Regions from separate parts of the Homo sapiens genome. Here region 1 is linked to region 2. Evidence: fine-mapped expression QTL. Tissue or cell type: monocytes after Pam3CSK4. Region 2 holds a variant in brackets; the other region holds the start of a gene. All regions are shown on one strand. Distances are from middle to middle. Region 1 holds the start of ACMSD (aminocarboxymuconate semialdehyde decarboxylase). Region 2 overlaps ACMSD (aminocarboxymuconate semialdehyde decarboxylase).

The links.
Region 1: ACMSD starts here. The variant in region 2 is fine-mapped to the expression of ACMSD in monocytes after Pam3CSK4 (Quach 2016, PIP 0.95).

The regions. Positions count from the first base shown.
Region 1 is chr2:134,836,170-134,841,553 of GRCh38, reverse strand. It overlaps ACMSD (aminocarboxymuconate semialdehyde decarboxylase), which reads right to left and starts at 2,938. Exons shown (of 10, transcript NM_138326.3): 1 at 2,815-2,938. The coding sequence starts at 2,871.
Region 2 is chr2:134,901,218-134,906,547 of GRCh38, reverse strand. ACMSD (aminocarboxymuconate semialdehyde decarboxylase) reads right to left here. Exons shown (of 10, transcript NM_138326.3): 10 at 4,514-4,750. The coding sequence ends at 4,688. The region is part of intron 1 of CCNT2-AS1 (CCNT2 antisense RNA 1); the gene reads left to right. Among named protein-coding and RNA genes, the nearest start is that of CCNT2-AS1, 15 kb to the left of the region's middle. The variant T/C (reference allele first, on the strand shown) is at 3,260.

The DNA of each region.
Region 1 (5,384 bases), 65 kb after region 2:
TCCCTGAATCCATTGTCTTTATACGTCAGATATGTTTTTTTTTCAAGAACCCTACTTGTAACTCTGACTAAAATTATTATTAGCAAGCGAAAATGAAAAGATTTCTCAAATCCCCGTCCATTATCATCATTAATTAAACATCACTTCAGGCGTGTTGATTCTGCTTTTCTGTCTCTTCATTGTGCAAGAAGGTCAAGGTTATTCCAGCAGCAGTACTCTCTTGGGCCAGTTTTCTCAAGATGGGTGTGGTGGTGGGGAGGCTCTTGAGGGACCACGGTGGCCTCTCATAGCTCTGGGATTCTAGGTTCATTTCTGAGTCTCAAGCATCTCATCTGTCAAGTGAATAATATAAATCTTATCTGCATATTTCACAAGGTTTATGTAAATTATTTCTCCCTCTGTCTCTCCCTGGAAGTACGAAGTGTTATGACTATAATGATGGAAATGATGTAGATGGTGATGATGAAGTGTATCAGCTGTCTGCTTGCAGCATATGAGACTACTACATAAGAAGAAACCTGGTTTGGAATGAAAAACCAAACATCATATGTTCTCACTCATAAGTGGTAGCTAAGTTATGAGGATGCAAAGGCATAAGAATGACACGATGGACTTTGGGGACTCGGGGAAAGGGTGGGAAGCAGATGAGGGATAAAAGACTAAAATTGGGTGCAGTGTATACTGCTTGGGTGATGGGTGCACCAAAATCTCACAAATCACCACTAAAGAACTTACTCATGTAACCAAACACCACCTGTTCCCCAATAGCCTATGGAAATAAAAATAAATACATAAAAATAAAAAAAGAAGAAGAAACCTGGTTTATTGGGACAAAATTCCTCTCCCTCTTTAAAGCAATAGCTGGTGATAGAAAGGAGAGGGAGTTTGGAAGCTGGGAAGTCCAAGATCTGGTGAGAACCCGCTTCCTGGTTCTAAGATGGTGCCTTCTTGCTGTGCCCTCACGTGGCAGAAGGGGCGAACAAGCTTCCTTGGGCTTACTTTATAAGGGCACTAATCTCATACATGAGGGCTCTGCTCTCATTACCTAATCACCTCCAGAAGGCTGCATCTCCTAATACCATTGCCTTGTGGATGAGGGTTTCACCTGAATTTTGGGGGGGACATACACATTCAGACTGTAGCTCTCTCTAAGCCTCAAAATCCTGTCTGCACAAGGAGGTGTATGCCCTGGAGCTTGGAGCCCTGCTTGGAGGGTCGATCATGCTAGCTAGCTTTCTCAGTGGGATAGTACAGGGGGGCGTTGTCCTCTAGAGACCACCGTGGTGGTTTCCAAAGCATTTCATGTGGATATTCTTTCATACTCAAATAGAGAAAAAAGCTGTAACAGAGGAATTAGTGGTTTTTTTTTTTTTTTTTTTTTTTTTTGCTAGGTATAGTTTATGGCTATTTTAAAATACCAAATACTAAAATTTGGATTTTTCTAAAACTCTCAGATTAGGGAGTATAATCTATTGCTTCCATTACCTGTATCACAAGTTAGTCAATGTGTTCATTGCATCATTCATCAGGCAAATACTCATAAATGAGGGGTAGAAAGTGGTGGGCGCCATAAGATGTAAGAAACTGCATGCAGCTTCTAAACAAGGCAGATGCACTCCCACAAAGTAACTGGTGCATTCCCTTCATGAAATCATTAACATTGTGAAGTGGTTTACACTTCAGTAAACTATGATGAGGACAACAGCACTCAGAACAGCATGTTCCTGTGTAAACATGTAGAGTCCTTTTAGGAAGAGCAGGTTGAGAGGTTTATCTTTTATCGTTAGCTGTGCATAGGATAGGCTTTCAAAGATTTTGTTTTTCAATCCACAGTTTCTACCACCCCTCTTACCTAAGATACCAATGGACAAAGAAATACTTAAGATAAACATTCTTCAATGAGACAACTATGAGAAGAAAATAGTTTCATCTATTTGCACAATGAACCACATTTAATTCAAGTTTGGGTTAATTCATTTTCCCTCACTTGGGATAAAAAAGTTGAAACATTATCGGTGGTGTGAAAGTACTGGCAGAATGCTGAAGATTGGGTAAAACCTGATATTAAGCCTGAACAAACCTCTAGCCAATTTTACATTTCTTTCATGTTCCTCACCTTCCTCTTTTTATATTCATTCAAAAGTTCTTAATGACAAAAGGAAATTTCCATCTTTAGAGAAACACAAAGAATACTCTCTTAGGAGATGTCACTGTGCAAAAGCTTCATGTCATTTATTCTCGGGTTTTTTGATGTACCTACTTCCTAGTTCTTCAGGACAAAGATTTATAGAATAAAGAACATCAAACAGTAAAGGTTTCAGGCAGTGTCCTAAAATAGACTAAAAAAATTCACAAAGCTATCTCTTGGTGCTTCTAAAACTTATTTTAAACATTTTGGAAAGGAGATATATTTTAGAAGTCCTTGAAACCGATCACATTCCATTTTTAATGGTCTTCTACTTAAAATTGTAACTTTAAATTCTGTAGTTGGCATGTATCTTCCCAGCAGCTGAATATGTGATTTTTGAAAAGGTAAATCTGCCTTATTTAAATTGTCCAGATATTTTAAAGAATGGTTCATTTGAGGGAAAAAAGGGTTTCTGAGAAAGCACTTATTTCTTTAATCCAATGTTATTTCAAAATAAATATAAAAGTCATTTTTAAAAGCTAGAAAATCAGAACTACCAAATGATTTAACCCCCTCGCCCCCCACCAAAGCAGATAAACTAGACATCTAATTCCACAAAGAAGAGAAAGGCATTGAGAAACCCTGGAGAAGTTTCAGAAATAATTCAGCAAATTAATTACCATTACCTTTTTTAGATCTGGCCATTCTTTTGGTAGAATATGACTATGGATGTCAATTTTCATCTCCACAGGATCAGAGAAGCATGCAAGGAAAGAAGTTTTGATATCAAGAGACCTTTGTGAAAACTGTGGAGTTAATTGATTTACTTAGTCCCTTTACAGCAACCTTCAGGCAGCAGTCAGTAGGCCTGCCCAACCCAGTCTAGGTCCATTAGAACTGCTTTATTAAAGTTCAAAGTTCTGTTTATTTGTTAACCAAGCTTTGGTTAACCAAGCTTTATTTGTTAATCAAGCTTTGGGTCAACACAGTTTGGTAGTCAGGACTCTTGGCACAAAACTTAAAAAAACAAAAACAAAAACAAAAACAAAAAAACAACTGTACTCAACTGTATGAGGTCAAAAGCACAGCAGGATGCTTTGACTTACAGCAGGTCAAAAATTGACTGATTTTTCATTTTAAATATTTTAACTTAGTTGTACATAGTTAATAATTAAATAGTTTGTAGTTAAAAATAAAACCATGCAGAGGGCTTTTACAGAAAAAGGATAGATCCCTGACTCACCTTTTCTTACTTTTCCTTGCACTATTCAGAAGCAGCCAGTTTTTATGATTTTGCTTTTTGTTCAGTTAGTTACTCCCATATCTTTAAATAATATTTAACAGTTGTCTTGTTCATGAAAATTTAACGTGTTGAAAAGTTATGGGGAGGTTTCACATTTTAAATCACAGAAAGAGTCCACTCTTCATATATGTTTTTTCCTCCAGTGCCTTTGTCTTGGACTCATTCATTCATGCATTTTTTTCCTTTTTTTTTTGTTTTTTAATTTGAGATGCGGTCTCACTATATTGCCCAGGCTGGTATGGAATTCCTGGGCTCAAGCAATCCACCCACCTTTGCCTCCCAAAGTGCTGGGATTACAGGCGAGAGCCACTGCACCCAGCTTCATTCATGCATTTAACAAACATTTATGGAGAACTGCTATATGCTGACGATGTAAGGTTGACTGAGAGAAAGATGATACATATCCTAAAGTGTAGGGAAAAGAAGATAGTAGCCATTTCCATTTAGCATTATCAGAGCAGTCAGGGAGGGCTTCCAATATAGCAGAAAGTGGGGCTTATATGGTCATGCCTCTAAAGAGAGCCTGGAACAAAACAGCCCTTGATTGTTCTGTGTTTACCCTTTCCTCTTCCTGAACAGCTTAAAATGTTCAAGGGACCCCAGGTCCCCTGGCAAACCCTTAAACCTGCCTTGGTTGCTGCCTTCAGCTCAGACTCCACAACACATAAATTGAGTAGTCAAAAAGCTTCCTTCTGTAATTCAGCTAGATTCTGGATAAATTATAACAGACAGCTTGAAAGAAAATAAAGGAAATCCTTGAAATCCATTTTTTTAGAAGTTCAGTGAGCTAAAACTGAATGAGTAAGCCTTAAACTAACATGGAGGCACTTGCTAATACTGAGTAAGTAAGTGCAAGCATTTTTAGAGCACTCCCAATGGGCCAGGCACTGGTCCATGAATTTTAATAAAGTCGGTTCACTTATTACTCATAACATTCCTGTGGGGGAAGAACTAGGACCAATATTCATTTTATAGAAGAGGAAACTGAAGCACGGAGAAGTACCTTGTTCATGGTTACACAATAGTGTGTGGGAGAACTGGAATTAGAATCCAGAAAATGTGGCTTCAGACTCCTAGAGATTTCAGGGTTAATATCCCACAAGGGAATGGGAGATAATAATATGGGCTTGTACAAAACTGAAATGCCCTCATTACACTAAAAGTCTTGAAGGATCTAGACCCTCAGGGAAAAAGTAGTCTAGGAAAAAAATCCATTGGCCAAAAAGAGGGAGTCTGTAATGAAACCTGTCTTCACTATGAGGGGAAAAAAAGAGAAGAAATAACAATTTTCTCTGAGAATTTCTTTGAGAATTACTATTCAAGGTCACCCACTAAGATTTTAGTTAAAGTACCACTCACCTACTTCCTCCCACCCTGTCTTAGTCAATTTAGTGTTGCTTTAATAGAATACCTGAGTCTGGATAATTTATAAAGAAAAGAAACTCATTTGGCTCACAGTTCTGCTGGCTGGAAAGTCCAAGAACATTGCACCAGGAGCTGTTTGGCTTCTGGTGAGGGCCACATGCTGAGGTACAACATGGTAGAAAAGCAGAAAGGTATGCAGATGTGTGCAAAGAGGGACAGGACAAAGGAGGCTAATGAGTTTTATAACAACCCACTCTTGGAAGAACTAATCTATTTCTATGAGAATTAATCCAACCTCAAGAACTAAACCAGGCTTGTGAAAAACCCATCTTAACAGCCTAATCACCTCTTAAAAACACCACCTCCCAATGCTGCTACATTGGCAATTATATGTTAACATGTTTTGGTAGGGAGAAATTACATCCAAACCCTAGTACTACTTTTGACCAGAAAAAGGAAATGTAAATCCTCCCTGAAGAAAAACATCCCAATTCTGTCTCCTCAGTATTGCCACAGATTAAGCACCCCCAACAAAGTATTGTCTCACAATAAAAAAATTCTACACACATGAGGAAAAAAGTCACTATG
Region 2 (5,330 bases):
CACAACTGAGGGCAGGAACCATGATTGCTTTTTTCATACTCTCAGAATCTAGCATGGTTCTTGGCCCATCATAAGTCCTGAATAAATTTTGTTGAATGCATGAGTGAATGAAGACTTAGGTCATCCCTCAAGAAAGTCCAGTCTAGAAGGCAGATAGGAATCACAACTCAAAATGAGAGGTGTGCTCTGTTAGAGATAGCAGTACATTTTTTTTTTTGTTTTCGGTTTTTTGAAGGGGGAGTTACTGAGCGATGAAATCCCAAAGCCTAGAAACCAGCACTTTAGGTCCTGAGGAATTTTAACAGAGAAAGTAATATAATCAAATACATACTTTGGACATTTTTATCTGGCACCAAGGTAGAAGATGGGTTGTACCAGACTAAGCCAAGGGGCAGGGGTACAAATAAGGGATTATTTCAATATCCTGCTGAGAGATGAAGACCTGAATTTAGTTGGAAGCCATATGGAGGAAAGAACAGATAAGAAATAAAAGATATAAAATGAGTTGAATCTTTTGGATTTAATGGTGTATTGATACGGGTGAAGGAGAAGGATTAGGTGACTGGGTGATGCCATTCATCAGGTTGGGACTGTAAGAAGTGGAATTAAATTTTGGGATAAAGGGATTGAGTTATATCTGAGGCATATGGTTCTATTGAATACCGTAGTATTGTAGCTTTGATTTTGTGTGTGTGTGTGTATGCCTAATGCTGTTAGGACTTCTTGAAACATTGTCTGCTCTTGACTCCTGAGTATATTTTCCTGGTTTTCCTCCTACCTCACTGGCTACTCTTCTGTGCACAAAGCTGGTGCCTTCATCTAACTTTTTTTTTTTTTTTTTTGAGACAGAGTCTCGCTCTGTCACCCAGGCTGGAGTGCAGTGGCACGATCTCGGCTCACTGCAACCTCCGCCTCACGGGTTCAAGTGATTCTCCTGCCTCAGCTTCCCGATTAGCTGGGATTACAGGCACGTGCCACCATGCCCGGGCTAATTTTTGTATAGCCTTCATCTAACTTCTAAGTGTTAGTGAATCCCAGGAAATAGGCCTAGGGTCTTTTGCGTCTCTACTCTACTTTTTCACCAGGTGATTTCATCCAGTCTCATTTCTTTAAATACCTTTTATACACTGGTGATTTTTCCCTAGCCTCTCTCTTGAACTCTCCAGACTAGAACACTCAAGTGCTTACTTGACATTCCTACTTAAATGTCTAAGAGGCATCTGAAATATAACAAGTCCAACTACAGAACTGTTGATTCTCTTTCCTCTCAAGACTGTTTCTCCCATAGTCTTCCTCATTATGGTATATGGTAATAAATCTACCCAGCTGTTCAAGTGAAAAGCCTGGGAATCAAAGCACCTATGTTTAAAGTATGGATGCATTTAACACCATTAACTACTATTAATCATCTCAAACCTTAAATGTCACCAGGAGTATGTGCCCAGGAAAGTCCTAGTTAGAAAACCCTCTTTACACCCAGATTAAAGAGGAATTCTCGCATCTTTTCTTCTAGTACCTGCATAGTTTAATATTTTAGAGTTAAATCTTTGATCCAATCAGAGTTGTAGTTTATCCATATGTATGATTTGGGAAATGAATCAAATTTTATTGCAGTATTATTTATAATTACAAAACATTAGGAATTATTTAAATGTCCAAATATAGGAGACTGATTGACAAAAGCATGGTGTGCACATGTGTACACACACTTCACATTCACATGCCCAGGAGTCAGCCTTGATTTCTTTCCTCCCCTTCCTCCCTCTTCCTCACATTTAGTCCATCATTAAATGCTGTTGGTTCTGCCTACAAACATATCTCATGATCCCCATTCTTGTATTTATGCCTGAGTCACCATCATTTCTTGCCTAGCCTCCAACTTCCTTTCTTGACTCCCTTTAATAGGTCTCTACAAAGCTGTTAATGTATATGGGTTTCTTTTTTCTTTTTTTCCTCCTCTCCTCTCCTCTCTTTTTTCTGAGACAGGGTCTCACTCTGTCACCCAGGCTGGAGTGCAGTGGCATGATCCTAGCTCACTGCAGCCTCGAACTCCTGGGCTTAAGCCATCCTCCCATCCCAGCCTCCTGAGTAGCTGAGATTATAGGAATGAGCCACCACACCCAGCTAATTAAAAAAAAATTTTTTTTTGTAGAGATTGCTGTGTTGCCCAGGCTGGTCTCAGTCTCCTGGCTTCAAGTGATCCTCCTGCCTCAGCCTCTCAAAGTGTTGGGATTACTGTTGCAAGCCACTGCACCCTTCTATTTTTTGTTTGTTTGTTTTAAAAGAATAACATAAGTCCGAGCATGTCACAGACCTATTAAAAAGTCTCCAGTGGTTTCCTATGAAACAAGATAAAAATCTTGGGCAGGCGTGGTGGCTCATGCCTGTAATCCCAGCACTTTGAGAGGCTGAGGCGGGAGGATCACGAGGTCAGGAGATTGAGACCATCCTGGCCAACAGGGTGAAACCCCGACTCTATTAAAAAAAAAAATTAGCTGGACCTGGTGGCGCGTGCCTGTAATCCTAGCTACTCAGGAGGCTGAGGCAGAAGAATCACTTGAACCAGGGAGTCAGAGGTTGCAGTGAGCCGAGATTGCGCCACTGCATTCCAGCCTGGCGACAGGGTAAGATTCTGTCTCAAAAAAAAAAATTATCTGGACCTGGTGGCACGTGCCTGTAATCCTAGCTACTCAGGAGGCTGAGGCAGGAGAATCACTTGAACCAGGGAGTCGGAGGTTGCAGTGAGCCGAGATCGCGCCACTGCATTCCAGCCTGGTGACGGTACGATTCTGCCTCAAACAACAACAACAACAACAACAACAACAACAACAAAAACTCAACCCTTGACCATGATCTACTGATCTAGCCAACTTTTTGGCTTCCTCTCCTGTCTCCCTTCCTTGCTCACAAACTTGTCACGAGGTTTCTTGCCTCAGAACCTTTGCATTTTCTTCACTGTTCTATCATTCAAATCTCAGTTGAAAGTCCTCTTTAAAGAGGCCTTCTCTGACTCTACAATTTAACGTTTTACCCCCCCATCTTTCTCCTAGTCACTACCACATTTTCGTTTTAATTTCTTCATAGTGTTTATCAGTATAAGAAAAATTTCCTTCCTTCTTTCCTCCTTCTGTTCCTCCTTTTATTCCTCTTTTTCTTCTTCCTTACCTTATTTATGTTTCTCACTCTTCAGATTGTAGGTTTTGTCAGAAAAGGAATTTTATCTTTTTTGTTTACATCTATACCCCCAGTGCCTGGAGCA[T/C]TCCTATAGTCCTGGCACATAGAAAACATGTGAATATGAATATATCCATTCACTCTGCATGTGTATGTGTGTGTATGATATTGAATAAAGTGATTGGGTTACTTTTTATAATAAAACAATCATTAAATGCTGTATTCAGAGTGCTCAAATATAGAATATTTGAAAAGGTATGGACTTTATCCCCAAAGATTGGGGAAGGAAAAAATAACATATGGTTCATGTTGTTGCTTTGTTCAACTTTGTTTTCCTTTTTGGGCAGATTGGAGCAATAAGCAGATGGTGGGTGAGTAAAATCCTAGAAAGAAATGGTGGGGGGTGGGGTGAGAAGGAGGTGGGGCAATGAACTATATAAAGTGAAAATAATGGCGTGAGCATAGTGAAGTAAGAATTAGATCTCATCTTTATTCTGGAGAGGGGTCAGCACAAATTACATGTCAATACTCAACTCTTGATTTTCTAGATGAATGGAAGGGAAAATAATGAATGAATCCATGCTTGATTTTGGAATTCAGCCAGAGGCAGATGAACCATAGATTTCATCACCCATCCCAGGACCAAGTTCCTTTTCAGCAGCCCAAGTGGGACCATAAATGAAATGGGTAAAACAAGGCTACCCTGGTATTGCCCTATTAACTTTCCACAGTTAGCTTCATACATTCTGCTCGGTATTTTAAAATCAAAAGAGCTTCTGGTAGGAGTAAATTTATAGACAAAAACTTTTAAAATGGATGTCTCATTCAGTCTGAAACCACAGCTGTGTTCCCATAGTTTTGCCTTCCTGTTTCCCATCCTCTAACCCTAAAAATTCCTTATTCATCTCCTGGACTCTCATGTTCCACCCTCTGTGAAGATCTGCTCCACAGTTTTAGACCAAAGTGAATTCCGCTTAACGAAACTTCTTTGACACTCAAAGTTGATAGCTTAGTAATTATTCCATGAACATCTCTTACCTCCTTAATTGGTCTGGAAGCTCCCTGAGGTTATGGATATCCTATATTCATGTTATTTATTTTGTGGAGGCTAAAGCATTCCCAGCCCAGTTCTGGGCTAATGGTAGGTGTTAAAGGCAGATGGAACAGGTTATTTGAGTCCAATTCACATATCTTTGTTCAAAATGGACAACCTACCTAAGTCTTCTAGGATGAATCTTTCTCCATATAAATCATTAATGACATTTTATTTTGTATTTCTCCAGATTAATTAAAAGAGCACTGGGAAAATCATTTTTTATTTGCACATGAAATAATGTACTGCTTTTCAGAATGAAAACACTTACAAATCATTTTTATTATGAATAATTTAGGATATTTGGGACATTCATTTCTGAGTAAAATAGTTCAAAATAGGATTTTGTTGATACCTGTTGATACATATTTAGAAACAAAAATGAGATATCCTTTTGAAAGTTTGCCTTTGTAGTAAATTCAGTCATTCAAATTGTTTTCTCTCAAGACCCAAAAATGCCAGGGCATTGCCGGCTTTGAGTTTATTCTGAAAAGAAAAGAAAATATTTTAAAGCATTATTGGTTGTTTTTTAAGTACTTTTAAGTACTACATTGATCAGGTTTAAAAAAATCAGCTCCCCAATATGAGAGAAAAATACTAGCAGGTTATACAGTGAATCTCTTACCAAAATCCTCTTGACCTATGTTTTGCCCCGCTGTTTGAAATCTAAATCTGAAACTTGATTGTAGGGGGAGAGAAGAGACTTATAAAGGGGAGAGCCCTCCTTAGGAGGTGCCCTTGTTTGGAAACTGGACCCTCTAACAGCTTGGATCTTAAGGACCATTTGGGGGCAAATACAGAGAAAAGGTACAGTTAGGTCTGTGGGACAAGAGGGCTGCAAAAGGTGCTCAAAAGTCATCTAGCCATCCCCCAGCTGCTAGACATATGTGTTGTTGTTTTCACATGGCCCTAAATAAAAGTTAAGCTTTTTCAGAGCAAGAGAAGTGATATAAATGAAGGGTCTCAGATGAGGGTACAAATCCGTACATCTTAAAATTTTCACATAAGAAATGGACTCCCCAGCTATAAACTATATCAACTCTGCTGAAAGAAGAGATTTAAGAAG